Homo sapiens: one gene and its partners. The protein of the gene in region 1 purifies or fractionates together with the protein of each later gene. This does not show direct contact. Each region holds a gene or a part of one and is shown in the gene's direction. Other genes may lie near its edges. The genes, in order: NKAP, TOPORS, CSNK2A2, AQR, LCN1, RBM25 and NEURL4.

Region 1 (3,888 bases):
AATAAAATTCAGAGCCCAAAGATAACCATACACGTATGGAACTTCAGTGTATGAAAGAGATAGCATGTCAGATCAATGGGGAAAGAAAGAACTATTCAGTACATGAAATAGGAGGCTGAGGCAGGAGAATCGGTTGAACCTGGGAGGCGGAGGTTGCAATAAGCCGAGATTATGCCACTGCACTCCAGCCTGGGTGACAGAGGGAGACTTGGAAGTTAAATCCACTGATAAAAACTGCTGTTCAATTACAGATTTAGACTTGGTTCTTTTTTTTTTTTTTTTTTTTTTGAGACCTAGTTTCACTCTTGTCTCCCAGGCTGGAGTACAGTGGCGCAATCTCAGCTCACTGCAACCTCCACCTCCTGGGTTCAAATGATTCTCCTGCCTCAGCCTCCCAAGTAGCTGGGATTACGGGTGCCCACCACCACACCCAGCTAATTTTTGTATTTTTAGCAGAGACGAGGTTTCACCACGTTGGCCAGGCTGGTCTTAAACTCCTGACCTCAGGTGACCTGCCTGCCTCAGCCTCCAAAAGTGCTGAGATTACAGGCGTGAGCCACCATGCCCAGCCTAGACTTGGTTCTTTTGGTTTTATGGTAAAGTAGAACCTTGAAGGAAGTTCCATCTGATTAATGACTAGTTAAATGTTTTATCTATCCTACTTCCAATTCCACAAAGGCAAATGGATATGTCACCTAGGAAGTTTAATAATTTGCCCATTTCTGATTGTTTTACTGGAAACAAATTAGACGTATACCCTTAGTATTTGAAATTAATGATAGCGGCCAGGCATGGTGGCTCACACCTGTAATCCCAGCACTTTGGGAGGCCAAGGCAGGTGGATCACCTGAGGTCAGGAGTTCGAAACCAGCATGGCCAACATGGCGAAACCCCATCTCTACTAAAAATACAAAAATTAGTCGGGCGTGGTGGCACACACCTGTACTCCCGGCTACTCGGGAGGCTGAGGCAGGGGAATCACTTGAGCCCAGGAGGCAGAGGTCGCAGTGAGCCAAGATTGTGCCACTGCACTCCAGCCTTGGTGACAGAGCCAGACTTTAAGACTCACAAAAAGGAGAAAAGAAAAAAGGATAGGCCAGGCGCGGTGGCTCACGCCTGTAATCCCAGCACTTTGGGAGGCCGAGGTGGGTGGATCATGAGGTCAGGAGATCGAGACCATCCTGGCTAACAAGGTGAAACCCCGTCTCTACTAAAAATACAAAAAATTAGCCGGGCGCGGTGGCGGGCGCCTGTAGTCCCAGCTACTGGGGAGGCTGAGGCAGGAGAATGGCGTGAACCCGGGAAGCGGAGCTTGCAGTGAGCCGAGATTGCGCCACTGCAGTCCGCAGTCCGGCCTGGGCGACAGAGCGAGACTCCGTCTCAAAAAAAAAAAAAAAAAAAATTAAAAAAAAAAAAAAAAGAAAAAAGGATAACATTTACTATGTTGACAGGAAATCAGAGATCATTATTTGAATAGTGGAAATGAATCAAAGACATATCAGGGCCGGGCACGGTGGCTCACGCCTGTAATCTCAGCACTTTGGGAGGCTGAGACAGGCGGATTACTTGAGGTCAGGAGTTCGAGATCAGCCTAGCCAACATGGTGAAACCCCATCTCTACTAAAAATGCAAAAATTAGCCAGACCTGTTATCTCAGCTACTCAGGAGGCTGAGATGGGGGAATTGCTTGAGCCAGGGAGGTGGAAGTTGCAGTGAGCCGAGATCGTGCCACTGCATTCCAACCTAGGCAACAGAGCAAGACTCCATCTCAAAACAAAACAAAAAAAAAGGACGTGTCAGGCAGCTAAAATATTAATAAATGATCTTTTGGAAATTTAACCCATTTCAATTTTTGTCAGCTGTTAAATAGACCACTCTGGGTAAGAAAGGATTAATGATGATGTACTATGAAAATAATTACTGAGAAATTAAGCCAAAAATAAAATTCTCTCCAGGCATCGCCGAATGGAGGCTGTGCGACTGCGAAAAGAGAACCAGATCTACAGTGCTGATGAGAAGAGAGCCCTTGCATCCTTTAACCAAGAAGAGAGACGAAAGAGAGAGAACAAGATTCTGGCCAGTTTTCGAGAAATGGTTTACAGAAAGACCAAAGGGAAGGATGACAAATAAAGATTTTCTGATTGTCCAGAAGACATTTTTAACAACAAAAAAGAAAGTCTGGGTTCCACACATACATAGAAAAAGATTATTATGTTCTGAGAAAGCTTTACAGTGCTACTGTGCCTTCTATTTAATTCTTTCAGTCCTTCAATAAAAAGCTGCTTATTGATATAACTTTAGCAAGTTCTTTGGGTTATTTTGGATTGACCATAGTAACTTTCTGGTTTAAAAATCCAAATTATGGGCTGGGCACGGTTGCTCACGCCTGTAATCCCAGCACTTTGGGAGGCTGAGGCGGGTGGATCACTTGAGGCCAGGAGTTCGAGACCAGCCTGGCCAACATGGTGAAACCCTGTCCCTACTGAAAATACAAAATCAGCCAGGAGTGGTGGCGCACACCTGTAGTCCCAGCTACTCGAGAGGAAGAGGCAGGAGAATTGCTTGAACCTAGGAGGTGGAGGTTGCAGTGAGCCGAGATTGTGCCACTGCACTCCAGCCTGGGCGACAAAGCAAGACTGTGTCTCAGAAAAAAATAAAAGGCCAGGCACGGTGGCTCACGCCTGTAATCCCAGCACTTTGGGAGGCCAAGGCGGGTGGATCACCTGAGGTCAGGAGTCGAGACCAGCCTGGCCAACATGGTGAAACCCTGTCTCTACCAAAAAATACAAAAATTAGCCGGGCGTGGTGGTGGGCGCCTGTAATCCCAACTACTCGGGAGGCTGAGGCAGGAGAATTGCTTGAATCCAGGAGGCGGAGGTTGCAGTGAGCCGAGATTGTGACATTGCACTCCAGCCTGGGCAAGAAGAGTGAAACTCTGTCTCAAAAAAAAAAAATCCAAATTATGAATAAAATGCTACTGTATTGGAGGAGGTGGCTTGAACAAAAAGTGTTAGTGAGATGAGAAACTTCAATCTCACACCATGAGACAGTGCTACTATTAGCTCTATGTGATGCCTGCCCCACCCCGACCTCTACCCCAGCTGAACTTTTGGGAAATTATCACTCCTCTGTGTTGAATGTGTTATAAATGGACTTGATAGGAACATATAGGAGGCCACTTTTGTTAACAAAATGAAGGCATTGCTGCGAAAAGCAAATCTGGAATTTGAAAACTGACTTGTGTACTATAATATATGATCTACCCTGGAAATAATGGGTTTTGATTTAAGTCCCTACCTCCACTCTAAAACCAACAAACAAACCAAAAAGCAAACTAACCCACAGATTTGTTGAATTGAAAATGTGAACATTAGATATTTTAAATTGTTTTTTTTGAGATGGAATCTCGCTCTTGTTGCCCAGGCTGGAGTACAATGGGGTGATCTCGGCTCACCACAACCTCCACCTCCTAAGTTCAAGCAGTTCTCCTGCCTCAGCCTCCTGAGTAGCTGGGATTACAGGCATGTGCCACCATGCCTGGCTAATTTTGTATTTTTAGTAGAGATGGGGTTTCTCCATGTTGGTCAGGCTGGTCTCGAACTCCCAACCCCAGGTGATCCGCCCGCCTTGGCCTCCCAAAGTGCTGGGATTACAGGCATGAGCCACTGCGTCCAGCCTAAATTCTTAATAAGTTACTTAAAAATAGTTATTTGAAATATAAAGTCTTAAGAAGTCTACTCTTATCCCCATGTAAATACTTTATTTCAATCTGAGCTGATATGAGCTTGAGGATAGGATAACATCCAAAAGAATAGGAGTCAACTATGGTCAAGAGTTTTGATAAGGAAAAATATAATGAGTCAGTATTTTAGCTTAATTGTTTCATAA
Region 2 (4,598 bases), on another chromosome or scaffold:
AAGGGTCTCCTGCCTTGGCTTCCCAAAGTGATGGGATTACAGGCGTGAGCCACCGTGCCCCGCCTCTTTGATGTTTCTGATGAAGACTGTTTGTTTGTTTGTTTGTTTGTTTTGAAACAGGGTCTCATTCTGTCACCCAGGCTGGAGTGAGGTGGTGCAATTATGGCTCACTGCAGCCTGGACCTCCCAGGCTCAGTTAATCCTCCTGCCTCAGCCTCCTGAGTAGCTGGGACTACAGGTGTGCCCATCATGCCCGGCTAAGATTATTCTTTTCAGCTAATGATTCCTGTGTAGAAATACAAGAATGAATTCTAATTTATTATTATTTTTTAACCTGTTATGGAGGACATTACCAGTCATTCATTCACCTTTTACTGTCAAAGTGGTTAACAGGCTTATAAAACTAGAGAAGGGAAGGGTAAGGTTTCATTTTTTTAAAAAAATCATACTTTGTTGAGATTTTATTTTATTTGAACTTCAAGTTTACTACCTAATAATTCCCTTTAATAAATTCATTTTCAGCTGTAATTTTTATGTGAACTGGAAGTGTTCAGAAAACACTAAAATTCTATTTCAGAGAACTAAGTGAAGATAAAATGTATTAACTTGGAATTCACGGGTCTTTTTTCCAAGTCCAGTAATCCCTTCATTATATAGAGGAGAAAACTAAAGTCTAGAGTAATGTGGTTTTCTTCACATTAACTAGAGCTAGTTCTAGGTGAAGCCTGGTCTTCAGTCCAGATCTTTTGATAACCTCTTTGATTCCCTCCCAACTTTTCTCTGTTCCTTCCCTCTACCACACACACAGTCTCTGAACTGAAAGGTTTTTATTTTTATGTGTGTGTTTCTTTAAATTTCTTGAGTAGGCAGATTAAAAAATGTTAAAAGTAGAGGGAAATGCTGAGAAGGTTGTGCAGTATTAGGGTTTTAGACTGTTTATGAACAAAAAAGCAGTATTATGTATTTATAATCCTGCTTTTCCAGACCTTCCAGGACAGTGATGATGTTTTTGCATTTTCAGTCCAGTAAATAGAAGACTAGACATACCTGGACCCCTGAAGAAACGCTTATTTAGCATTAATTGATTCTCTATTAAGTTATGGTTCTGAGAAAGCCAAGATGCCCTAAAGTGAGCAGGTTTAATATGAAAGCTATGGTGGAATACTTGTATTTCAGTCATGAGTTTTTGTTGTGGGTTTTGTTTATTGGTTTTTCTTATAGTTTGTTAAGGCCAATGAGTCTATTTAGAAAATTACAATTCTGTTATTTGATTAACTTGACCCCAGTTGACTAGTGATGGAACCTCCTGTGATAAAGGAGGTGGAGGAAGATGAATATTAGGCCCTGGGAAACCAAGGGCCTAGTAGTTTTTTGTTGTTGTTTGTTTATTTGTTTTGAGACAGAGTTTCACTCTTGTCACCCACTGCAATGGTGCAGTCTCAGCTCACTGCAACCTCTGCCTCCTGGGTTCAAGCGATTCTCCTGTCTCAGCCTCCCAAGTAGCTGGGATTACAGGTGCCTGCCACCATGCCCGGCTAATTTTTGTATTCTTAGTAGAGACAAGGTTTCACAACGTTGGCCAGGCTGGTCTTGAACTCCTGACCTCAGGTGATCTGCCTGCCTTGGCCTCCCAAAGTGCTGGATTACAGGCATGAGCCACCGCGCCTGACTCCCCAATAGTCAATATACTCAAAATGATTAGTATAAAATGCAGCTTTGGAGTTTATGAGATAAAGTCAAAACGCATACTAGATTTCAAGCTCTAGCAAAGTTTTGAGCCAATGTAAACTGATAAAACAAACTAATCTTTAATATTCTAGTCATCCTTATGGGAAAGGATAATAGGGAAGGGGACCAAAAACATGATTTCAAGATATTCTGTGGCCTGACTTTTGGATTAAAGAAAAAAGCTAAAGGAAGGCTTATTAGGAATGCTGAATGGAATGAGTGATTAACTGAATATAATAGTGTAGTAATAATAACAGCTGACATTTACTCAGCACCTACTGTGAGCCAGGCACTGCCTCTTGGCTGCTTTTTCATTTATTATTTAATCTTCACTAAAAGTTTCCTCTCCCTTTTTAAAATTAGCTTTCTAAGGTTGAAAAAAGAATCTTTCACTAAAAATCATAGGATTGGTTTAAACAGGTGAACTTTCTGGTATGTAAGTTATGTCACCAAAGTTGTTTTAGAAAAGTACATACAAAATATCACAGATAAATCAGTAGTCTGTATTGTTAGTGGCATATGTATATGAAAGGTATAAAGCCATGCATAGAAATAACATCAACTGAGGAGTGTGGTGTTTTTGTTTTTTGTTTTCTAGAGAGTGATAGGAGGGGAAGATAAGGGGCATAACATAAGTGGTGGATACATGGGTATTTGGTACTTTTTTTTTTTATATGTCAGATATTTCTCAAATTATTTTTAAAAAGAATAATAGAATGTTACATAATATTTGAGAGCTTTACTATGTAGCAGGTGCCTTTTCTAAGGGCTTTTTACATCTTCACAAACCCTGTAAGGCAGATTCTGTTATCACTGACCTGCAGATGAAATTAAAGCACAGAGATACTAACTGGCACATAGTCACGCTGGTAGTGTGGAACCAGGATTCAGTCTTAGGAAATCTGACTTCAGAGCTTATGCTTTAAGCACTATATTACTATGCTACAGTGCCCCTTTATAAAATAAAACAAAAGTAATGGGTCACTTAAGTATTTTCACCAAAATAAGTTTCAAGGTCTTTATTTGCATTTTTGTTGAGACTATTTAGTCATTCCTCTATTATCAGGTTACTGATATATTTCTTTCCCTTTTACAGATAATGGCATCAGCTGCTAAGGAATTTAAAATGGACAACTTTTCACCTAAAGCTGGCACTAGCAAATTGCAACAGACAGTACCAGCTGATGCATCTCCTGATTCTAAGTGTCCTATATGCTTGGATAGATTTGATAATGTGTCTTACTTAGATCGCTGCTTACATAAGTTCTGTTTTCGCTGTGTACAGGAGTGGTCAAAAAACAAAGCTGAATGCCCACTATGTAAACAGCCCTTTGATTCTATTTTCCATTCTGTGAGGGCAGAAGATGACTTCAAGGAGTATGTCCTAAGGCCTTCGTATAATGGTTCTTTTGTCACCCCTGATCGACGATTTCGCTACCGTACAACTCTGACAAGGGAACGAAATGCTTCTGTGTATTCACCTAGTGGTCCTGTGAACAGAAGAACAACAACTCCACCGGATAGTGGAGTACTGTTTGAAGGGTTAGGCATTTCAACAAGACCTAGAGATGTTGAAATTCCTCAGTTTATGAGACAGATTGCAGTAAGGAGGCCAACTACGGCAGATGAAAGATCTTTGCGGAAAATTCAAGAACAAGATATTATTAATTTTAGACGAACTCTTTATCGTGCTGGTGCTCGAGTTAGAAATATTGAAGATGGTGGCCGCTACAGGGATATTTCAGCTGAATTTTTCCGTAGAAATCCAGCTTGCCTTCACAGATTAGTCCCCTGGTTAAAACGTGAACTTACAGTTCTTTTTGGAGCTCATGGATCTTTAGTGAATATTGTCCAGCATATTATCATGAGTAATGTTACTCGCTATGACTTGGAGAGTCAGGCATTTGTGTCTGATTTAAGACCATTTTTACTTAATCGAACTGAGCATTTTATACATGAATTTATCAGTTTTGCCCGATCTCCTTTTAACATGGCAGCCTTTGACCAGCATGCCAATTATGATTGCCCTGCTCCTTCATACGAAGAAGGCAGCCATTCTGATTCTTCAGTCATAACAATATCTCCAGATGAGGCTGAGACCCAAGAGCTGGATATTAATGTAGCCACTGTTAGTCAGGCACCATGGGATGATGAAACTCCAGGACCATCTTACTCAAGCTCAGAGCAGGTACACGTTACTATGTCTTCTCTTTTAAATACTTCTGACAGTTCAGATGAAGAACTTGTCACAGGAGGAGCCACGTCTCAGATACAAGGAGTACAAACCAATGACGACCTAAATAATGACAGTGATGATTCTTCAGATAATTGTGTCATTGTTGGGTTTGTTAAACCACTAGCTGAGAGGACCCCAGAACTTGTTGAACTGTCCTCTGATTCTGAGGACTTAGGTTCTTATGAGAAAATGGAGACAGTGAAGACACAAGAACAGGAGCAATCTTACAGTTCTGGTGATAGCGATGTTAGTAGATGCTCATCTCCACACTCTGTCCTTGGAAAGGATGAACAAATAAATAAAGGTCATTGTGATTCTAGTACAAGAATCAAATCAAAGAAGGAAGAGAAACGATCTACATCATTGTCATCTCCCAGAAACCTGAACTCATCTGTAAGAGGAGACAGAGTATATTCTCCATATAACCATAGACACAGAAAGAGGGGAAGATCAAGAAGTTCAGATTCACGTTCTCAGAGTAGAAGTGGGCATGATCAGAAGAATCATAGAAAGCATCATGGGAAGAAAAGAATGAAAAGTAAACGATCCAGAAGCAGGGAAAGTAGCAGACCTAGAGGGAGAAGAGACAAAAAGAGATCAAGAACTAGAGATAGCAGTTGGTCCAGAAGAAGCC
Region 3 (4,598 bases), on another chromosome or scaffold:
AAGGTCCTGAATTTGAAGTTTATGAAGATAGTTATTATGTTAGGCAAGGGAGATTTAGAAGCAAATTTTTACATTAAAAAAATGGAGCTTAACAATCTAATAAATGATTGAAAGATTTGAATCAGCATTTCTCCAAAGAAGATTTAGAATGGCCGGTAGACACATAAAAAGAAGTTCCACTTCATCACTCATTATGGAAATAAAAATCAAAACCACATGGAGATACCACTTTACACCCACCAGCAAAGCTATAATCAAAAAGTTGAACAATGACAGGTGTTGATGAGAATGTGGAGAAACTTGAACCCTCAGGTTGCTGGTGGGAGTAAAAGTGACGCAGCCACTTTGGAAGATAATTAGGCAGTTTCTTAAAAGTTTAAACACAAATTTAGCATACAACCCAGCACTTCCACCCCTAGGAATCTACCCAAGGGAAATGAAAGCATGAGTGGAAACAACCCAAATGTCCATCAGCTAGTAGTGGAATACTACTCAGCAAGGAAAAACAACTTGGATGAATCTCAGAAACAGTATACTGAAGGAAAGAAGGTAGACAAAGCACTATACATGTATGATTTCATATTATGAATGTACAGAAAAGGCAAATCTATACCAGCAAATAGCAGGTCAGTGGTTGTGGGCAGGGCACGGAGGGGTTGGGAGAAGTTAGGAAAGGGGATTGACTACAGACAAGCTCAAGAAAAATTTTAGGAGTGATGGAGATGTTCTAAAACTGGATTGTGGTAATGGTTGCACAGCTTTTTAAATTTGTGAAAAACCATTATATACATAAAATCTTATCTGCATATCAATCATCTTAAACAAAGCAATTTTCTCCCTTGGAATAATATGTAATGATAATTGTTTTTTTTTTGAGACCCGCTTTGTTGCCCAGGCTGAAGTGCAATGGTGCCATCTCGGCTCACTGCAACCTCCGCCTCTCAGGTTCAGGCAATTCTCGTGCCTTAGCCCCACAAGTAGCTGGGACTAGAGGTGCCCACCACCTTGCCTGGCTAATTTTTTGTATTTTTAGTAGAGGTGGAGTTTCGCCATGTTGGCCAGGCTGGTCTTGAACTCCTGACCTGAAGTGATCTGCCTGCCTCCGAAAGTTCTGGGATTACAGGCATGAGCACCATGCCTGGCCTTATAATGATAAGTCTTAAAGGCTAGCTGGCTCAGGGATTATATTAAGGAAAATACTAATACTTGGTCATCTAGAAAACCCACGTGGGACCCTTATGTACAAAATAAGCCATACTGAAAGATGTATTTGAATGTCATTCTTCATGTCCACATAGATGCTGGTCTGTCCTTTGAACCATTATGAGAGGTGACTCCAGTGAGGTTCCAAAGTCTGGTTTATCATCCCACACACACACCCCCCTCCCCACTGCCCGCCTTTCTTGCCCAGGCTGGAGTGCAGTGGCACCATCTCAGCTCACTGCAGCCTCCACCTCCCAGGTTCAAGCAGTTCTCCAGCCTCAGCCCAGTCGAGTGGCTGGGATTACAGGCACGCACCACCACGCCCAGCTAACTTTTGTATTTTTAGTATAGCCGTGTTGCCCAGGCTAGTCTCGAACTCCTGACCTCAAGTGATCCACCTGCCTCGGCCTCCCAAAGTGCTAGGATTACAGGCATGAGTCACTGTGCCTGGCCTCATCACCCCCTCTTTTAAAGAAATCTTCCTCGGCTGGGCACAGTGGCTCACACCTGTAATCCCAGTACCTTGGGAGGCCGAGGCTGGCGGATCACGAGGTCAGGAGATTGAAACCATCCTGGCTAACACGGTGAAACCCTGTCTCTACTAAAAATACAGAAAATTAGCTGGGCGTAGTGGCAGGCACTTGTAGTCCTAGCTACTCGGGAGGCTGAGGCAGGAGAAGGGCGTGAACCCGGGAGGCAGAGCTTGCAGTGAGCCGAGATTGCACCACTGCACTCCAGCCTGGGCGACAGAGCAAGACTCCATCTCAAAAAAAAAAAAAAGAAATCTTCCTCATAGCCCTTGCCATTCCCTTCATACCCCCTTTCTACCAGCTGTAGTGTGCAGAGAGAGCAAGGGGTGCCTTCTGAAGCACGCTTTTTTTCTCTTTCATTACAGGCAGCAAGCTGCCCGTTGGGGGACTGTATTCAAGTCAAGGTGTCACAAACAATAAGACTATGCTTGCGTTGGGGGATGGTAGAGGGGTTGCTTACTATTATCTGTGCTTTCTTACCTAATAGGCTCTGGATTACTGCCACAGCAAGGGAATCATGCACAGGGATGTGAAACCTCACAATGTCATGATAGATCACCAACAGAAAAAGGTACCATTACAGCCAGGCAGCAACAAGCTTGATTAAAAGGCTTAGAGCAGACCAAAAAGCTGTCCAGTGCCATGATGGTTTCTGTAGACCCGTGGTGGGTTTTTTGGCAAACTTTCGTTACTGTGATTTCTCCCATCTCCATTGTTGATTTCTACTTTGTATAGTGTAGTACACAAGGAAAGTAGACGGTTTAACTATAGTAACTAACTATAGTCACTTGTTTATTTTGGTCATAGTTTTCTGGAGGGCCTCAGAAAGAAATTACAGCTGGTGGTTTCTGCTTCATTTCTTGATGACCCGCAGACCAATCTGCCTGGCCTTAAAAGAACACTTGGGTCCCTCCTATTTTTGATATCCAACTCTGTTGGCCCTAATCAGTGAGTAAATGGATCATCTAGTATTAGACGAATAAATCATTAGAGCAATGCTTCAGTCCTGGAGTGGGATGTGTGTCCCCAGCCCTTTCACTGACGCCTGGAGCTTATAACGAAAAGCTATGAATGATGGGAGAATGTGTTACCAAGTGTAACTGCCTACAGTTTCTGAATGTGGGCAGAAAAAAAGGTTGAGCTCTGTTGATCTAGAGAGAGGGATGAACCAGGATAATTTAAAATTTTTTCAAAAAGCATTTCAAGTGTTCTGCTCTAAAAATGACCTCTTGCACGATTGCTGAAAATGTAATTTTTAAGCCAGTGCACCTGCTCACATTTTTTGTGTGGCCAAATGATTGTTACCTAATGTGATGTGGCCTTGTTCTAAGGCATAGGCGTCTAGAAACACTCCTTTCACATGTTTTTTTCTGTCCTATTTGTAGCTGCGACTGATAGATTGGGGTCTGGCAGAATTCTATCATCCTGCTCAGGAGTACAATGTTCGTGTAGCCTCAAGGTACTTCAAGGGACCAGAGCTCCTCGTGGACTATCAGGTAAACTTGTTAGCAGAGCTATTCTGGGTTATTTATACTTGCTTAGGGCTTTTCTGGTTTGCTGTTGATCTAGTCAGTTTGAATACACTCAAAACCCAGCCATTATTTCACCCTAAAATGCTGATTTTAGTTTTTTCTCAGCTAGTTTTTTGGGGGGACAGAGAAGTTTTTAAATCTAAAATATCTGCAAAGGTTAAATGAAGACTAGAAATTCAGATCATTTCTAGGAGCCAGGAAGTTAAAAAAAATTTTTTTTAAATAAATTATCTATGGCCATACCACCCTGAACACGCCCAATCTCGTCTAAAAAAGAAATTTATATCAGAAAAATGGATTTCTAATACCCTTGGCTAATGCGTTGTCCTTATTGCCTCAGATGTATGATTATAGCTTGGACATGTGGAGTTTGGGCTGTATGTTAGCAAGCATGATCTTTCGAAGGGAACCATTCTTCCATGGACAGGACAACTATGACCAGGTGAGCAAATGCTTTCTGGTTCTTATTTATTTGGGGGTGAATGCCAAAAAAATAGCATCCTTAGATAAGAATACTATCCTTGAGCCACTAAGTATCACTCAGTGTCTGCATATGAGCTTTTCTTCAAGATAAAGATCGCACAGAATTTTGTGTTTACCAGGTCCGCAGAAGTAGAGGCAGATAATGCCATCTATGCCAAACTTCCAAAGTGAATCTGTGAAGAAGTCAGGCACCTCCTTGTCTAATAAAACTAGATTTTAGTCATTAGATTGTGATGCCCTGTACTGGTCCACCTCTAGAAGATTATTATCGTAAGTTGTATTATTTTAAAGGCCGTTTGGAAATTTGCATTCATGTGAACTTCTTGTCCTTGGGTCTGTCTGCCTGCCCTGGACCTGGGTTTGTATCTCGTTCCTAGAGGTTTAGTGGTGTGGAAGTCTTCTGATTCCTTGGTGCAGTGTCCTCACGGGCTCATGGTGTGTTCTGTGCTCAGTGATTTGGTCAGTTTGTTTTGTGTTTCAGCTTGTTCGCATTGCCAAGGTTCTGGGTACAGAAGAACTGTATGGGTATCTGAAGAAGTATCACATAGACCTAGATCCACACTTCAACGATATCCTGGGACAGTAAGTAAGAGAGAGAGAGAGAGTGCTTTACCTTACCCCGTTTCAGAAGTGGAAAGGTTAGCCAAAATCACTTTCTTTTCCCATTCTGATTATAGTAAAATGGAAGTAGCCCTCTTTTTTCCTATGCATATTTTCTTTTAACTTATTGAGATATTTGGACTTTATGTCTTTTAATCATTTTACTTCTCTGAGAGATAACCTATTAATAGAAAAGGTAAAACAAAAATCATAATGTTATAGAAAAAAGTTTTCTGGTACAGCAAAAGCT
Region 4 (4,598 bases), on another chromosome or scaffold:
TTTTTGACAACATGGATAAACCAGGAGTACATTATGCTAAATGTATTAAGCCAGATACAGATAGACAAAAACTGATTATCTCACTTTACATATGGAATCTAAAAAAGGCAAATTCATAGAAGCAGTAGAAGGGCAGTTATCAGGTTGTAGGTGGGGAAAATGGGGTCATGTTGGTCAAAGGGTCTAAACTTTCAGTTACAAGATACATAAGTTTGGAGATCTAATGTAAAGTATAGTGACTATAATTAATGTTTTATGTACTTGAAACTTGACAGGATAGATCTTAAGTATTCTTACCACACACACAAAAAATGCTAACTGTGTTGGTAATGATATCACAGTGTATACATAGTTTAAAACATCACATTGTATTCCTTAACTATATACAATTTTTATTTGTCAAGTATACGTCAATAAAGCTGAAATAAAACTAAGTGTGCTGGATTATTTATTTCTTTGATAAAATGGCTCAGCCCCAGAATGCTCTTATGTACATAGGGTTAGCTTTTTTCTTAGGTTGGAGAGGAGATATTCCTCTACTTCTCTTTCTTTTCTGGACCATGTTTGCCTGTTTCATGCTATCATATCCCTGTTTCATGCTATCTTATATACTTTGCATACTTTGAGAGTTAAAGGTTTTCTTTTTTTTAAGTTAAGAAATAAGAGTTACTAATATTAGGACTTAAATACTAGCTGAACAGTATTCCTACTTACTAGTTTTAACTTGTCTAAAAGTTGGGGATAAATTATTTTTTGTTTGAGTAATCATCCATTTCTTTGGTTTCAGGCAATCTGAATATGGCGGTGTAGTGTTTGGTGGTTGGGCGCGAATGGCCCAGCCCATTGTGGCTTTCACTGTCGTTGAAGTGGCCAAACCCAACATAGGTGAAAACTGGCCAACCCGAGTTCGTGCAGATGTTACCATAAATCTCAATGTCAGAGATCACATCAAAGATGAATGGGAAGGTAAGTTTGTATTTCAAAAAGTGACATTACCTTTTGCCTTGTTATGAACTTTCACTTAGAGCATTAACAAAGTACTTTTACTAAATGTTATCCTTTAAAGCTTTTATTAAGCGTTATCCTTGAAATTTGATTTAAAGAATAGCAACTTTTTTTCTAATTATTAGTTTTAAAAATACCAGGGATCATACAAGAATATTTAGGTATCTTAATACTTTAATAAAAAGTATAAAATTGCATACATATCAACGTTTTGAAAACTGAAGTTTGCAAAGCCTAGAGGAGAGCATTTTAAGTCTTAAATTTAGCAAAATAATATTTATGGATTTCTGGCATCAATATAAAAGAATAAAAATATTAGTGTTCACCAAAGAGCAGGGAGAAAGCCCACATATAACATACAAACATGCAGAGCAGTAAGGAAAATTGGTATTTTTCAAAAGATAAAAGTAGCCAAGGTGAAAAAAATAGAAATACATACACTTTGTGGAAAATAAAAATTAGGCAAGCTTAAAAAGAATATGTGGGGGTGGGCAGGGCTATAGTGAAACAATTCAGAAATAAATAATAGTTTATTTGCGCCTAAGGCAGAAAGGATAAAGAGTCAGTGAAGTCAAATGTAGTCAAGGATATATAATAATTGCAAAGAAATTAAAGGAGTTATTCCTCCTATTTTTGCTAGGCAAGATTTTAAGGATTAGAGTTCCATGTCAAAATTAATTTGTTTTGGAGGCAGATATGTTCAAAATTACTAAGTCCAATAGAGTTAAAACATCAATAAGACCTCTGCCAGAAGTGACATATGAACTGATTTCTAATAGGCAGTTTTATATTTTTCTCCCAGCTGTCCTGTGAGAGGTCTTACTTAAAGCCCTGTTTTGAGAAACAGTAGTCAGTAGGTTTTACCTCCTTTTACCTTCTTGGCATGCCAGAAGGAAAGGATGTCCCTTAATGGATCTGTTTTCAGAAATTATTACTACCAGTGTAGCTGTTTATAATCATGGGAACTATATCAAAGAATTCTGAAGGAATCCAGCAACAAAGCTAGCCAAATGTTTAACAAATGCCTACTGTAGCGGGTATAGTTTATGACAGATTGTTTTATAACCCTTGTATCCTTCAAAAGAGTTCCATCCTGGTATATTACTCATCTAGACTAATGTGCACCTTTATTATTGCTGAGCCTCGAGAAAGCCATTAAGTTGCTGGAGAAGGTCTCATATTTATTATTCCTTGAAGCTTAAGGAGATATTAAACACTGTGGGTAATAAACTGAGATAACTTACTGGGTACCCCCAGAAGTAGTAGATAGTTGGAATTTTGTTTATTTTAAAGGACTCTATAGGAATTTATAGATGAGAGGTCTGCATTTTGGTGTTAAGGAAAACAAAAGGATGTTTAAAAACAGGCCACTTCCCCCATTACTGACTGCTTTCAGAAGGACATGAGACAGTCTTTTTTTCTTTTAAACATCAGCCTCTGGTAGAATGAGAACTGGACAGGGTACATTTTGATGGGCAAGATAGGGCACAATAGGGTATTGTGGGATGAGTGATAATCTGGGGTATGATGGAGAGAAAAGTGTTTTATGGGAGGCCTGGGCCAAAAACCAGCCCCTATATTGATCACAGATAGGGTAGCCAAATAGAAAATGGAGTAAAAAGGAGAGATTCTGTAAACAATAATACATTTTTTTTTTTTTTAGACGGAGTCTCACTCTGTCGCCCAGTCTGGAGGGCAGTGGCACAATCTCGGCTCACTGCAACCTCCACCTCCTGGGTTCAAACAATTCTCTGCCTCAGCCTCCCGAGTAGCTGGGATTACAGGCACCCGCCACCACGCCCAGCTAATTTTTTGTATTTTTAGTAGAGACGGGGTTTCACCATCTTGGCCAGGCTGGTCTTGTGATCCACCTGCCTCAGCTTCCTAAAGTGCTGGGATTACAGGCGTGAGCCACCGTGCCCAGCTGAATATTGTTTTATAAAAGTAAATTTTAAAGATTATTAAACTAAATACCATAAAACATTCCTTTTGTCCCTTTGAAAAGGTGTGAACCTCAAGCCCTTATCTTCTTCAATATTCTCATTTAAAGTTAAGGAAACAGAATTCATGAAATGGAAATGCCAGATTTGCTCCAGAAAGCACAGCTAGGATAGGGTGGATACAAATGGTTGCAAGGAGAGAGACATATAGGATTTTAAAAAATGTGGATCTAAGATGTCCCAGAGTAAAGTGGTTTGTTTTAGGAAGGAACAAGAGGTCATCCCTCAGTGATGCCAAAAAGTAACTCCTATCTTGGGAGAGGATAAATGACTTCTCAGGACCACTTCTTTGGCTGTAAGACTTAGAAGTTTTAATGAGCTGTGCAGATCAGACATCACACAGGTAGTACAACTCAGAGAGTAGGATGATTCCCATTCATTCTCATTACTTCTCTTGCTGCTTTGCATAGAATTTATTGGGAAATAATTAAGTCAGTATTATGAATAGAGTTATTATTTCTACCTTTACCCATACTCTAACCAGTCCCCCAATTAAAACAAACCAAAATATTTTCAGTACTATTAGCCATATGCCCACATTGTTGATTTGATTTCATTGTGTTTGTTGTTAACAAGGTTGTGAGCAAGCAGACTGTTTACATTTACATTTATGTCATGTAATGGCTAACAAAAACATCAGAAATGGAATGAAGATTAAGTGGTGTAGCATTACATGCTGTGAGGTCTAATTTTATAATCCTTGTCTTCCAGTTTCTCTACTTTTAATAGAGCTGGGAAGCCATTTGAGTTCTTTATTGGGTCTAGTGACCAAGAAGCTGTGGACTCTGGCACAAGTCTCCTTTTTCTTGACATTCACTTATAAAAATGTTCACGATTTGCCAACTGAAACTGTATATATTCAGCCATCTTTCTCAAGATCATACCTGTAAACAATACTTTTTTGCCTTGATTAATTATTCTTGAGTTGACCTGTTTTAGTGAAATACAATTAGGCTGTCTTTGGAATGACACTGATAGATAGTTTAAACTGATATTAAAAACCTGCTAAATATGCTATAGATGGATTATATGCCAGCCATATTTTTGGTTACTTATTAAGATTGTTAAAAATAAGAATGATGACGAACATCCAATTTTGGAGCTGTAGCATGACTTGGAGGGCTTATTCAGTAATATATTCATGGCATGAATGTTTCTAATTTTAATATAAAGAAGTTTTCATTTCAATTAATGCTATGAAATATTGAGTATTAAAGATTATAGAAAAGCCCATAATTGTGTTACAATGCGATAATAATCATTGGTCACTCAACGGTATCTCTCTACCAAAGATAAGAGGTAGAGAGGCAAATAAGAATTTGCCTACAAAAGACTGAAAACAATGAAATTCTAATAAATGAAAATGTCTTTATATCTTACCAGGTCTTCGTAAGCATGATGTATGCTTTTTAATTACCGTACGTCCCACAAAACCTTATGGCACTAAGTTTGACCGGAGGAGACCTTTTATTGAGCAGGTTGGCCTGGTTTATGTCAGAGGCTGTGAAATTCAGGGCATGCTGGATGATAAAGGACGTGTCATTGAAGATGGTATGGTGACCTATATTTTTGAAAGAGTATGTGTATAGAATG
Region 5 (3,699 bases), on another chromosome or scaffold:
CGGGAAGCCGGTCCGAGGGGTGAAGCTCGTGGGTGGGTCCCGCACCCTCACCCTGCAACCCATGCCTCCACCTGCCCTCCCTCCTCCCTCGGCCTCCTGCACCCTCTTCCCCATGGGAGAAGCCACTGGGACCCAGGAACCCACTGCAGTTTTCTTAGGATGAGTTTTCCTGATAAAGGCCTCAATTCCCACCCCTGGAGTTCAGGATTTGGGATGCCCCGGCCTCGGTATCTGCAGCAGAGGCAGGAAGGAGCCACGGCTGCAGGCACAGGGGTTCAAAGGTCACACATGTCCCAGAGTGGGCCAGGCCCTCCCCCGGAGCAGCTCCCTGCAGTGTCATCCTTGAGCGCGTTCCTGTGGGGTGTCCAGCAGGAGAGAGGAACAGGGATGTGAGCAGAAGTCTGCATGGAAAGAACGTTCCAGCTCCCGGGGTTGAATTCCGGACGCGGTGCCTCCCACAGATGGTGACTCATCAGTGCTGTCCCTGTCAGAGGACGAGGCCCATGAAGGCTCCTGAGTTCTCCCTGGAGCCAGGGGTGTGCGAATGACAGAGGATTGGGATCCTGGTGCCCCCAAGGGGAGAGGCGCTTCCTCCAGGGTGGGCCTGTCGTGCCGTCCATCCTCACTCCGGGAGATGCTCAGGGATGGATGGAGAGCCCTTCCCGTTCTCCCGGTTCTGCTGCCACAGGAGCCTTCTCAGCCGTGCACGGCACCCTGGTCCCACTTTGCCAGCCTGAGGGCCTCTGGGTTCAATTCCCCCCACGGTGGGCGAGGTCCCCTTCCCCAGCCCAGCTCAGGCCTCCAGACTGGGATGGGGTGCCGTCGGCCCAGTGCTGCCTCGAGCACCCACATCTCGTCCTGGCACCCACAGGCAGAGACCCCAAGAACAACCTGGAAGCCTTGGAGGACTTTGAGAAAGCCGCAGGAGCCCGCGGACTCAGCACGGAGAGCATCCTCATCCCCAGGCAGAGCGGTAGGAGGCATGGCCCTGCAGAGCCCCCCATGTCCCCGCGTGGGGACATCAGCAGAGCTGCATTGCACGGGCGCATAACTGTGCTGCGTCTAATTCTGGCTTTGTCCTTCCTGGGGTGGTGGAGCTGGTGGCTGATGAGGGGCCCCGGTCCTGACTGCATTCCTGGGGTCTCCTAACGCCTGTGCTTCCTTTTCCTGCAGAAACCTGCTCTCCAGGGAGCGATTAGGGTGAGTGAACAGCTTTAGAGGACATTTGAGAAAATCCAGTTCTGGGGCTCAGTGGTGCTTCCAGAGGCCATGGGGTCTCTCCCACCCATCCCACTCCTACCTGGGTGGGAGATGCCCCACGTAGGTCAGGCAGGTGGGAGCTCTGCTCCTGAGCTGCCCACGCTCGGGCGTCAGACTCCGTTCTTGCCCTGGGTGTGACTCCTGGGCAGCTGGGAAGCCCACAGCGCTGAGCCCGCCTTTGCTGGCTGCTGGTGGAGACGGTGTCTACCCCCCAGTCACATGGGCAGGAGCAGGCAGGAGATTCGGGTTCCTCCTCAGCACCCCTCACCCTCGGCCATGCCTGTGACTCCACTTACCCGATAAGTTGCTCAAAGATTCAGCAAAGTGGCAGGCGTGCCTGTGCTCGCTGTGTCAGATGGGCCCCTTGCTGGCTGCACAAGGGGACCAGAGTTTGGAGACTCGCCCAAGGTCACCTGCCCAGGTGTGGGCAGAGCCAGAATCCTGGACAGCATCGCTGTCCTTCCCGCACCCTCCCCTTGGCCTGCAGTCACCCTGATGCCACTTCACTCAGCAGGGAGCTCTGTCAGCAGCCTGCGGGGGTGGTCCCTGCTCCATCCGCTCCAATCTAGAGGCTGGAGCCCCCACCTGCAGCCCCCAAGAGTCCGTGTGTGCCCCCCACACCATCGCCCCCAAGAGCTCGCATGTGCCCACCACACCATAGCCCCCTAGAGCCCGGTGCACGTCCCCCACACCATTGCCTCTGAGATCCAGCACGTGCCCCCGCAACCATCGCCCCCGAGAGCCCGCATGTGCCTTCCACCGTAACCCTCAAGAGCCCAGTGTGTACCCCCACCATAGCCCCCGAGAGCCCACATGTGCCCACACACCATAGCCCCCGAGAGCCCACATGTGCCCCCCACACCATGCCCCTGAGAGCCCACATGTGCCCCCCACACCATCACCCCTGAGAGCCTGCTGTGCCCCCCACACCATAGCCCCCGAGAGCCTGCATGTGCCCTCCACATCACAGCCCCCAAGAGTGCAGCGTGTGCCCCCCACACCATGCCCCTGAGAGCTCACATGGGCCCCCACACTGCAGCACCCAAGAGCCCACATGCGCCCCCACATTGCATCCCCCTCCCACCCTTGCTGTCCTGGCCTCACTCACCCTCCCCCCCTTTCCAGGGCAGGGGACACCTTGGCTCCTCAGCAGCCCAAGGACGGCACCATCCAGCACCTCCGTCATTCACAGGGACATGGAAAAAGCTCCCCACCCCTGCAGAACGCGGCTGGCTGCACCCCTTCCTACCACCCCCCGCCTTCCCCCTGCCCTGCGCCCCCTCTCCTGGTTCTCCATAAAGAGCTTCAGCAGTTCCCAGTGACTCCGCCTGTCTGTGGGGTCCCTCGGGGTGAGAGGTGCTGGCTGGGTGCTCTTTTGGGTGCAGGGACTGGGTGGGAAGCAGGAGGAAGGACAGGGAACCAGCCTGGACCCAGTTCTCCCTGGTGGGTGCCACAGGCCAACAGTGGGAGGGGCCTAGCAGGGGGGTGTGTGCTGGAGGCTGGGCCTGAAGGTCCCGGGGTGCTTCCTGCAGGTCAGCCGCCCGCTGAGCTCAGGCTGTAGGGGTTGCGGGGGTGGGGGCAGGGCTCCACTCCTCGGTCCTGCACAAGTAAGACCGGAAGGCCTGGGACCAAGCGCAGCTGCCACCCAGAGGGGACTGGGCAGAGCCACCAGTGCCCTCAGCACTGATGCTGAGTCCGTGAGGCTGGACGTGGGGGGAGGGGACAGCAGCTCAAGGCAGGGTGTGGCTCGGGCTTGAGCTCACCGGGGAAGCCAGTCCTGTCCTCCGGGGAGCCACACCAGCACTGCCCCCAGAGCCTGGCTCCACGCTGTCCCTCTCTGTGCCTGGGTAGGTTTGGGACAGCAAGTTCCCAGCTTGGGGGCAGCCACCAGAGGTCCCACCTGGCACAGGCGCCTTTCCTGACCCTGGCGGTCTGTAGGATTTAAAGTTTCTTTCGATGGCGCAACATCGCACAGTGACGCTGGGAGCGAGGAGAGGCAGACTCTTAGTGACTTGCTGCTCCGCAGGAGAGGGCAGTTGCCAGGCAGGGCCACACGGGGTGGCTTGAGCCTGGGACAGGACAACAGCCTGCAGAGCTCAGGGTAGGGAGCAGAAAGTGTAGCGGGTGACCCGGCTGCCTGTGGCCAGCTAACATGGGTCATTTCTCTGCTCCAGGGCTTAGGGGCTGTCCCTGGTTGTCTGGTACCTGGCTTTGGAGCAATGAGGGCTGGTGGGGAGCGGCCCCCCAGTGGGGCCGTCTGATTAGCGCAGGGCTGCCGTGTGGACCAATCAGCTGCTCAGGAAGGGGCCGGCCCCTAACCAGGCCTCAGTGCTCGATTCTGGCCAGGCATGGTGGCTCAGGCCTGTGTTCCCAGCACTCTGGGAGGCTGAGGTGAGAGAATCACTTGAAGCCAGGAGTTGGAGACCAGCCTGGGCAACA
Region 6 (4,598 bases), on another chromosome or scaffold:
GCCTCAGCCTCCCAAAGTGCTGGGATTACAGATGTGAGCCACCGCGCCCAGGAGAGGCCAGTTATCTTAAAGGAATATCCATAAAAATTAGCTGTTAACTGGTATTTTTGCCTTCACCTTTGAAGTCCAGCCTATCAACAAGCAAGTTTTGGCAGCTCCAAATAAAGGGGAATATGTTATGGAAAAATTTGAAGTGAATGGAATGGGTATATTGGCATAAACGAAAATTAAATATATCTGGTTAACTCTGCAGAATGAATTACACATTTAAAAACCATAAAATATAACTTAAATACCAAGAATATAGAGTTTTACTTTTTTTTTTTTTTTAGACGGAGTCTTACTCTGTCGTTCAGGTTGGAGTGCAGTGGCGCGACCTCGGCTCACTGCAACATCTGCCTCCCAGGTTCAAGCAATTCTCCTGCCTCACCTTCCAGAGTAGCTGGGATTACAGGTGCGCACCACCACACCTGGCTAATTTTGTTTGTTTGTTTGTTTGTTTTCTTTTGAGACAGAGTCTCACTGTGTCACCCAGGCTAGAGTGCAGTGGCGCGATCTCGGCTCACTGCAACCTCGGCCTCCCGAGTTCAAGTGATCTCCTGCCTTTGCCTCTTGAGTAGCTGGGATTACAGGCACCCGCCACCACACCCAGCTAGTTTTTGTATTTTAGTAGAGACGGGGTTTCACCATGTTGGCCGGGCTGGTCTCCAACTCCTGACCTCAAGTGATCGGTCTGCCTCGGCCTCCCAAAGTGCTGGGATTACAGGGGTGAGCCACTGTGCCCAGCTAATTTTTTTTTTTTTTGAAACTGAGTCTTGCTCTGTCGCCAAGGTGGAGTGCAGTGGCGCAGTCTTGGCTCACTGCAACCCCTGCCACCCAGGTTCAAGCAATTCCCCTGCCTCAGCCTCCTGAGTAGCTGGGACTACAGGCGCACACTACCATGCCTGGATAACTTTTTGTATTAGATACGGGGTTTCGCCGTGTTGGCCAGGATGGTCTTGATCTCCTGACCTTGTGATCTGCCTGCCTTGGCCTCCCAAAGTGCTGGGATTACAGGCATGAGCCACCTCACCCAGCCCAGTGTTTATATTTTTAGTGGAGACAGGGGTTTCACCATTTTGGCCAGGCTGGTCTCGAACTCCTGACCTCCAGTGATCTGCCCGCCTTGGCCTCCCAAAGTGCTGGGATTACAGGTGTGAGCCACCGCCCCTGACCGAGAGTTTTAGTTTTTAAGCATTATTTATATCTAATATTATTGGGGGAAAAGTGGTTTTAAAAATGAGTTCATGGCCCAGTCTTGTAACCATTGTGAGGCTAGGCACTGGGCCATTGCTAGAATATAGTATGCGGCATGAGATAGCATAATAAATTTGTTTATTGAAGTCCTCAGAGTTTGTTTACTGATTTATTCATTAATCAGTTTATTCAACAGGTATGAAAACCAACTATCCTAAGAAAGCACTGAGATAGGCTATTATAATGATAATAGAAGAGCTTCTGTAAGTAGGACAGTAGCCCTTTCTGTTTTAAAAAGAGATACCACCCCCAGTTTTTGGTTTTGGTCAAAAAGTTTTACAGAAAGTTTATTTTAAAACTCAACACATTTACAGTCTTGCAATCTTGTGTTTTTCATTGTTAATATGTACTGATAACCTACCTACTGTTTAAAACATTTCTAATACCTCATTTGCCAAGTATATTAAATCCTCCTAAGGGCTGGGCGCAGTGGCTTATACCTGTAATCCCAGCACTTTGGGAGGCCGAGGCCGACGGATCACTTGAGGCCAGGAGTTTGAGACCAGCCTGGCCATACATGGTGAAACCCCGTCTCTACTAAAAATACAAAAATTAGCTGAGCTTGGTCGTGCGTGCCTTGTGGTGTGCACCTGTAATCCTAGCTACTTGGGAGGCTGAGGCAGGAGAATCGCTTGAACCCGACAGGCGGAGGTTTCAGTGAGCTGAGATGGTGCCTCTGCACTCCTGGGTGACAGAGCAAGACTCCATCTCAAAAAAAAAAAAAAAAAAATGCATCCTAGGGATTCCTTTACCTATAAAGTTTTCTAAATATTTTAAGTATACTGTGTTTTCTGAAATTGAAGTTTAGTTTTATTGAATATGGTATTATCCCAATTTAAGTCAAAGGAATTCTGAGGAAGTAGAGCTGTGAGCATGTAGGTCATGCTTTTCTGTTTTAAAGAAATGTCTAGTAAACAGGTAAACGCATACTCAACCTCATTAGTCATGAGGGAAATGTAAATTGAAATAAGAGTATATTTTACTTATGAAATTGTGAGAATTTTGACACTGATCTATTCTACCAATGATGAGGATATGAGGAAAGGGCATACCCATATTCTGGTGGTGGGAATATACATTTATATGCTAGTTTTCAGGGATGATTTTGGAGGTAAAGTTTGGATACATATAATTTTTTTTTTTTTTTTTTTTGATGTGGATTCTTGCTCTGTCGCCCAGGCTGACGTGCAATGGCACCGTCTCGGCTCACTGCAACCTCCGCCTCCCAGGTTCAAGCGATTCTCCTGCCTCAGCCTCCTGAGTAGCTGGGACTACAGGCACCTGCCATCACACCCAGCTAATCAGATACATATAGTTCTAACCTGTATTAGAGAATTACCTGTACAGATGCATACAGTTATATGTCTATTATCTCCAGGAATGTTCAACATTATTTGTGAGAGCTGAAAGTGGAGCCAACTGTTAATGTTGGTTAAATAAATATGTCCGTATTATAATAATTTACTGCATTATTATTATTTTATTATTTTTGAGGCAGTCTTGCTCTGTCACCAGGCTGGAGTGCAGTGGCTTGATCTCGGGTCACTGCAGCCTCCACCTCCCGGGTTCAAGCAATTCTCCTGCCTTAGCCTCCCAAGAGCTGGGACTACAGGCATGTGCCACCACGCCTGGATAATTTTTGTATTTTTTTCATGTTTTATTGCCTGTATTTTTTTTTTTTTTTTTGAAACAGAGTCTCGCTCTGTTGCCCAGGCTGGAGTGCAGTGGCGCGATCTTGGCTCACTGCAAGCTCCGCCTCCCAGGTTCACGCCATTCTCCTGCCTCAGCCTCCCTAGTAGCTGGGACTACAGGCGCCTGCCACCGCACCCAGCTAATTTTTTTTTTTTTTGTATTTTTAGTAGAGACGGGGTTTCACCGTGGTCTCGATGTCCTGACCTCGTGATCCACCCGCTTCGGCCTCCCAAAGTGCTGGGATTACAGGTGTGAGCCACCGCGCCCGGCCTGTATTTTGTTTTTATATGTATCATTAATTCTTAAAAATTAAGATTTTGAATCTCTTTGGATATTTATTAGGCTTCAAAGATCTTGATGGAGCAGTCTGAGTTGACTGCCAGTTTCTTAAGTTGGCGGTAAGGCTGGGGTGCAGCGCACACTGGTTTAGCGTGAGCAGTGATCACTAAGCACATGAGCTACGACCACCCCAACTTTACCTCGTTCACAGACAGAACTGGAAGGTTGGTCCTAGATGGCTGCTTGGTCCTGGATGCTTTAGTGGTCTCTTGATATGTGGAAAGCCTTGTTTTGGAACAAATGTTTCCATTGATACAGATGAGAAATGCCTCTTTAATATTTTTATAAACCATTTAGACCCCAATAGATTTGGTTTGTGGGTCACTCTCTTGTGAGTACCAAAGGATTTCATGGTTGGAAGGTGTGCCTTTTCGTCTTGGCAGTGAGCAGCATTTAATGGAGAGACAATGCTTGTATTTGATTTTTTTTTTTTTTTTTTGGTTCATTTACAGGATCTGAGACTTATTCAGACTACCAGCTGTATTATCAGGAAGGAACAAATCCAAGTTTTGACGTATTGTCAGTGTGCCGCATGTTGTATTTTCAAATTCCTTTAGTGGTTTTAACATTAGATGACCAATTCTTTGGCACTGATGTGCTTTTGCCAGTGTACGGTAGATCTGACCATGGCTCTGAGAAGTCTGGCTGGCATTACCACATCCCAAGCTCTCTGTCCAAAGAGAAGGAAGCGCCAGGGACGCACGCTTCCTTGGCTGGACTGCAGGAAAAGAGCTGCAGCACCAGCCTCTCATTACTGCAGCCACCCCCTCTCCTAATTTTTGTATTTTTAGTAGAGATGGGGTTTCACCATGCTGGCCAGGATGGTCTCAATCTCTTGACCTTGTGATCCACCCACCTCGGCCTCCCAAAGTGCTGGGATTATGAGCGTGAGCCACCACGCCCAGCCAATTTACTGCATTATAAAGGTGGAATAAGACTTTATTTTTATTTTTTATTTTTTTAGACAGACTCTGTCACCCAGGCTGGAGTGTAGTGGCACGATCTCAGCTCAGTGCAAACTCCGCACCCTGGGTTCAAGTGATTCTCTTGCCTCAGCCTCCCGAGTAGCTGGGATTACAGACATGTGCTACCACACTTGGCTGATTTATGTATTTTTAGTAGAGATGGGGTTTCACCATGTTGGCCAGGCTGGTCTAGAACTCTTGACCTCACGTGAGCCCCCTGCTTTGGCCTCCCAAAGTGTTGGGATTGCAGACGTGAGCCACCATCCCGGCTTGGAATAAAACTTTTGTGAACTGACATGAAGAGAT
Region 7 (4,598 bases), on another chromosome or scaffold:
GTCTGCCTACAATGGAGGGCTCCTGAATGTGAACCTGAGCTCCCCACCGGCAGGGGAAGGCCTGGGATCTAGCGGTGCTGCCACCTCGCCCATTCTCACTTCCAACGATGCCCTGCTCTTTCATGAAAAGTGCGGGACCCTCATCAAACTCAGCAACAATAATAAGACGGCTGAGCGCCGGCGGCCCCTGGATGAATTCAACAATGGGGTTGTCATGACCAATCGCCCCCTTCGGGACAATGAGATGTTTGAGGTGTGCAAAGTCCTGTGGTCTGGTTGGCGCCTTATCCCTGGGAGCTAAAGATGGGGATTGACCCTTGGTGCTAGGAGGGTGGGCCCTGGGGAAGAACCAAGGGCTGAAGGTCCCTTTCTGCATTTACATTCCCTGCTTCTCCCTTCTGTCCCTCAATGCCAGATCCGTATCGACAAGCTTGTTGATAAGTGGTCAGGCTCCATTGAGATTGGGGTCACCACCCACAACCCCAACAGTTTGGAGTACCCAGCCACCATGACCAACCTCCAGTCAGGTACCAGCCCCGGGCAGGGGCGGGGGTGCAGGCCTGGTGTTGCTGAGGGGAAGGAAGCCCCGTACCCGAACCCAAGTGTCCACTATCACCCAGGCACCATCATGATGAGCGGCTGTGGAATCCTGACCAATGGCAAGGGCACCCGCCGGGAGTACTGCGAATTCAGTCTGGATGAGTTGCAGGTGAGGGTGGGGCACAGATCCCTGGGCCGCTTTCAGCAGAGCCACAGGTACTCTGTGTCCCTGCCAGGGCACCAAGCAGGGTCTCCTATGTGACCTAGAGGCAGTCCCTGTATCTTCCACCTAAAGGTTCCTTCCTAGAAGCCTGAGTTGCCCAAGAGTTCAGCACTCAGATTTTGGAGTCAGATGGTTGAATTCCTCTTACTGTTTTCCCATTTGTAGTAGCGAACCGGGGCAAGAAGCTTATCCTCTTTGATTGCTCCCCCACCTCCTGCAATCTCTAAAATGAGCCTACGAGTAGTACTTATTCCATAGGCTGAGACTTGTAGAAGCTAATGTCTGTGAGGTGGTTTAACTCAGTGCCTGACTCACGTGGAGCATTGACGAAATGTGGAAATTGTCATGTCTGGAAAACAAGGACCCAGGACCTGTCCTCCAGGGTGGTCTGAGACTCTCACGAATACCTTCTGGAGTTGTTCCTGTGTGGAGTGGGGTGCTGAGCAGGCCTCAGGACTCCTCTAAACTGTTTGTCTTCTTTGATTAGGAGGGTGACCACATTGGCCTCACAAGGAAGTCCAACTCTGCCCTACACTTCTTCATTAATGGTATCGATCAGGGTAAGGGCCGCCCAGAGAGAGCCTCTGGGCCGGGGCTTTCGGTGGGGCTGGGACTGGGGGCTGTACCTCATCCTCCTGCTTCTCTTTGGTGCTTGGCCTCCCTGTGTTTGACTTTCTCCCCTCATTCTCCCTGTCCACTCCCACACCCCCGTACCTTCCTGCCACAGGAGTGGCAACCCCCTTGACGCCCCCAGTGGTGTATGGTGTGGTGGACTTGTACGGGATGGCAGTGAAGGTGACCATCGTCCACAATAACAACCACAGTGACCGTCTCCGCCGAAACAACGCCATCCTGCGGGCGCTGTCCCCCGAGGGTGCTCTCCGCCGTGCTGCCCCTGCCGCCCAGGCAGAACCTGAGCGCCTGCTCTTCCACCCCAACTGTGGGCAGAAGGCAGCCATCACCCACGAGGGACGCACTGCCCTGAGGCCCCAGTATGGCCCATGGGGTGGGGAGAAGCCTGAAGAAGGGATTCTAATGGGGGGGGGGGGGCGGGGCAAGGAAGTGGAAGGCAGAGGGAGCCTGGCGGGGGCAGCTTCCTGGAGGTTGAGCTTTAGTTCTTTGGCTTGGGGCAGTGAGTGTTGGCAGGCATTGCTGGGCTAAGCCTTGGCACATTGAGAGCGTGTGTTGGGGATCTGACTCTCCACTTGCTGTGCCCTCAGTGCCACCGATGACTTCAATCACGGCGTGGTGCTGAGCAGCAGAGCCCTGCGGGATGGAGAGGTGTTCCAGGTGCGCATCGACAAGATGGTGGACAAATGGGCTGGCTCCATTGAAATTGGTGTCACCACCCACAACCCTGCCTACCTCCAGTTGCCCTCCACCATGACCAACTTGCGCTCTGGTGAGCTCCCAGGAAGGGCAGGGACAGGATAGGGTTTTGGGGGGAAGCTATCCCCAAAGCCCTGGCACTTGTTCTGCAGCTCCTTTTTCACTTGTCACTCTTGTGACCACTCATTCAGTGGCTAGAGAGTGTCCCGTGGGCAGGGCTGTGGCTGTCTTGGAAGCTGCAGAGTTTTCTTGTCCTGCTCAGGGAAGAAATCTAGTCATCAAAGAAAAGGCAAGGTGGACTGTGGGCTCGGGAGTCCTGTGGGCGCTGCTGTGGCAAGGAGAGGAGCCCTGCATTTCCCCTCATGTCCCCTCCTGCTCCTTGTCCTCCCAGGGACCTGGATGATGACTGGGAATGGGGTGATGCACAATGGGACGACCATCCTGGATGAATACGGGCACAATCTGGACCGCCTCAAGGTGGGAAAGTGGGTGCGCCGCCTGGCGGCCGCAGCGGGCATCACAAACACCGCGGGGCTGATGCAGGACCAGCCCCGGCAGGAACTCTGCCTGACTCCTCACTCCAGCACCCCCTTCTTCCAAGGCAGGGGACACGGTGGGCGTGGTACGGCGGGAGGACGGGACTCTCCACTTCTTTGTCAATGGGATGACTCAGGGCCCTGCTGCCTGGAACGTGCCCCCGGGCGTCTATGCTGTCGTCGATCTCTATGGCCAGGCGGCCCAGGCCACCATTGTGGACGACGTGGGTGAGGGCCGGGCTGGGCTGGGGCTGGGGGTTAGGGTGGCCTTGGGAGGTCTGAGAGACACCTAGAGACCTGATGGGTGATGTCCACTTTTACAGAGGTGGCTCCAGTTCCTGAACCACTCCCTGAGGGGAACAACCAGGTGTCTCCAAGCTCTCCGTCCTCAGGGGCCGGGGGCTCTGACCTGCGCTTCCATCAGCTGCACGGCAGTAACGCAGTCATCACTAACGGGGGCCGCACCGCCCTCCGCCACAACTGTCGCAGCGAGTTTAATGACGCCATCGTCATCTCCAACCGGTCAGTCTCTCAACTTTCATGTCCCCACCTTCCTCCTGCCCAGCCTCAGCCATGCAAGTAGAGCCTCTCTGATCGCCAGTCTCCTGGCAGGGCCCTGCGGGATGGAGAGCTGTTTGAAATTGTCATTCAGAAGATGGTGGACCGCTGGTCAGGCTCCATTGAGGCTGGTGAGGGCCGTCTGTGTGTGTTGGGGGCTGTTGGATGTCTGTGCCTTGGGGATCGGCCTTGACTTACCCCTGCCTCCTCCCAGGAGTGACTGCTATTCGGCCTGAAGACCTGGAATTCCCCAACACCATGACAGACATTGACTATGACACATGGATGCTGAGGTTGGGCTTCCTGCTTTGGGGACCAGCTTGGGGCTGAGTGGAGCTGGCTGGGATCAGGGAAGCAAGGTTTGGGCCTATGGTGGCTGTGGGTAGTGACAGACCTAGGGGATCTACCTGTCCCCTCCCCTTGAATTCTGGGAAGTCCTGCCCAGGCCCACAGGGGCTCAGTCCTCCTTCATCTTAGGCAGTTCTTGCTTTTTCCTAAGGGGATCCCAGGGACAGAGGAGATAGGATTGGGCCTTACACCCAGATCAAGACACCAGCCCAAGACATTGGAGGGTTCTGACAGACAGGGAGTGGGCAGGGGCCAATGTGAAGTTGAAGTTGGCAGGCTGACTCACCCCTTCTGCCATCCCCCCAGTGGTACAGCCATCATGCAAGACGGTAACACGATGCGCAACAATTATGGGTGTGACCTGGATGCGCTGGGCACAGGTGCACGCATTGGCATGATGCGAACTGCCAAGGGCGACCTGCACTACTTCATCAACGGCCAGGACCAAGGCGCTGCCTGCTCGGGCCTGCCTCCGGGTAAAGGTGACTATGTGGCTTTCAGCCTGCCACCCTCAGCCCAGACCACCTGGCTGTCAGGCTTCTGACCTTCCCTCTCCTCCCCAGAGGTGTATGCGGTAGTCGATCTCTATGGCCAGTGTGTCCAAGTGTCCATCACCAATGCCACCGGCCCCATGGACAACAGCCTGGCGACCAGCAACACTGCCACCGAGAAGTCCTTCCCACTGCACTCCCCAGGTGCGGCAGCAGGGCGGGGGCTGGACGGGCTCTGCTTGCCTGCTGTGCACCTGAGGAGTAGGGTTTCCAGGTTAGAGAGGTTCTGCAAAGACGGTTGGCTGGGGTAGCTGCCGGCTCCAGGGAAGGGACAGCCCACGGTGGCAAGCAGCCAGTGAGGGGGAGGTTACACCTGGTACTTAGAGCCTGGACACTTCCCTGCCACCAAGGGGCCAGGACACCATAAGCTGAGCATGCCAGGTTTGGAAATGGGCCTTGCTGTGGTGAAAAGAGGTATCAGGGCCGGGCGCAGTAGCTCACGCCTGTAATCCCAGCACTTTGGGAGTTCAAGGCAGGTGGATCTCTCGAGCACAAGAGTTTGAGACCAGCCTG

Evidence for each region.
Region 2: the proteins of NKAP (region 1) and TOPORS purify together in Homo sapiens (affinity purification with mass spectrometry; one large-scale study listed by BioGRID and IntAct). This does not show direct contact.
Region 3: the proteins of NKAP (region 1) and CSNK2A2 purify together in Homo sapiens (affinity purification with mass spectrometry; 7 studies listed by BioGRID and IntAct, with this or other methods). This does not show direct contact.
Region 4: the proteins of NKAP (region 1) and AQR purify together in Homo sapiens (affinity purification with mass spectrometry; one large-scale study listed by BioGRID and IntAct). This does not show direct contact.
Region 5: the proteins of NKAP (region 1) and LCN1 purify together in Homo sapiens (affinity purification with mass spectrometry; one large-scale study listed by BioGRID and IntAct). This does not show direct contact.
Region 6: the proteins of NKAP (region 1) and RBM25 purify together in Homo sapiens (affinity purification with mass spectrometry; one large-scale study listed by BioGRID and IntAct). This does not show direct contact.
Region 7: the proteins of NKAP (region 1) and NEURL4 purify together in Homo sapiens (co-immunoprecipitation; one large-scale study listed by IntAct). This does not show direct contact.

The regions. Positions count from the first base shown.
Region 1 is NC_000023.11:119,923,462-119,927,349, reverse strand, and holds part of NKAP (NF-kappa-B-activating protein), read left to right. Parts: intron 1-1,955; coding exon 1,956-2,130; 3' UTR 2,131-3,888. UniProt on the Homo sapiens protein: Acts as a transcriptional repressor. Plays a role as a transcriptional corepressor of the Notch-mediated signaling required for T-cell development. Also involved in the TNF and IL-1 induced NF-kappa-B activation.
Region 2 is NC_000009.12:32,542,553-32,547,150, reverse strand, and holds part of TOPORS (E3 ubiquitin-protein ligase Topors), read left to right. Parts: intron 1-2,824; coding exon 2,825-4,598. UniProt on the Homo sapiens protein: Functions as an E3 ubiquitin-protein ligase and as an E3 SUMO1-protein ligase. Probable tumor suppressor involved in cell growth, cell proliferation and apoptosis that regulates p53/TP53 stability through ubiquitin-dependent degradation.
Region 3 is NC_000016.10:58,166,316-58,170,913, reverse strand, and holds part of CSNK2A2 (casein kinase II subunit alpha'), read left to right. Parts: exon of another isoform or gene 1-444; coding exon of another isoform or gene 445-549; intron 550-2,220; coding exon 2,221-2,304; intron 2,305-3,118; coding exon 3,119-3,229; intron 3,230-3,605; coding exon 3,606-3,707; intron 3,708-4,229; coding exon 4,230-4,330; intron 4,331-4,598.
Region 4 is NC_000015.10:34,906,503-34,911,100, reverse strand, and holds part of AQR (RNA helicase aquarius), read left to right. Parts: intron 1-787; coding exon 788-966; intron 967-4,388; coding exon 4,389-4,556; intron 4,557-4,598.
Region 5 is NC_000009.12:135,523,959-135,527,657, forward strand, and holds the end of LCN1 (lipocalin-1 isoform 1 precursor), read left to right. Parts: coding exon 1-32; exon of another isoform or gene 33-544; coding exon of another isoform or gene 545-871; coding exon 872-973; coding exon of another isoform or gene 974-1,149; exon of another isoform or gene 1,150-1,173; coding exon 1,174-1,199; coding exon of another isoform or gene 1,200-1,200; intron 1,201-2,385; coding exon of another isoform or gene 2,386-2,559; 3' UTR 2,560-2,582; downstream 2,583-3,699. UniProt on the Homo sapiens protein: Could play a role in taste reception. Could be necessary for the concentration and delivery of sapid molecules in the gustatory system.
Region 6 is NC_000014.9:73,064,640-73,069,237, forward strand, and holds part of RBM25 (RNA-binding protein 25), read left to right. Parts: intron 1-332; exon of another isoform or gene 333-454; intron 455-4,598. UniProt on the Homo sapiens protein: RNA-binding protein that acts as a regulator of alternative pre-mRNA splicing. Involved in apoptotic cell death through the regulation of the apoptotic factor BCL2L1 isoform expression.
Region 7 is NC_000017.11:7,322,366-7,326,963, reverse strand, and holds part of NEURL4 (neuralized-like protein 4), read left to right. Parts: coding exon 1-253; intron 254-415; coding exon 416-527; intron 528-620; coding exon 621-709; intron 710-1,250; coding exon 1,251-1,323; intron 1,324-1,490; coding exon 1,491-1,755; intron 1,756-1,983; coding exon 1,984-2,165; intron 2,166-2,483; coding exon 2,484-2,569; intron 2,570-2,693; coding exon 2,694-2,856; intron 2,857-2,951; coding exon 2,952-3,150; intron 3,151-3,240; coding exon 3,241-3,317; intron 3,318-3,400; coding exon 3,401-3,479; intron 3,480-3,840; coding exon 3,841-4,016; intron 4,017-4,097; coding exon 4,098-4,229; intron 4,230-4,598. UniProt on the Homo sapiens protein: Promotes CCP110 ubiquitination and proteasome-dependent degradation. By counteracting accumulation of CP110, maintains normal centriolar homeostasis and preventing formation of ectopic microtubular organizing centers.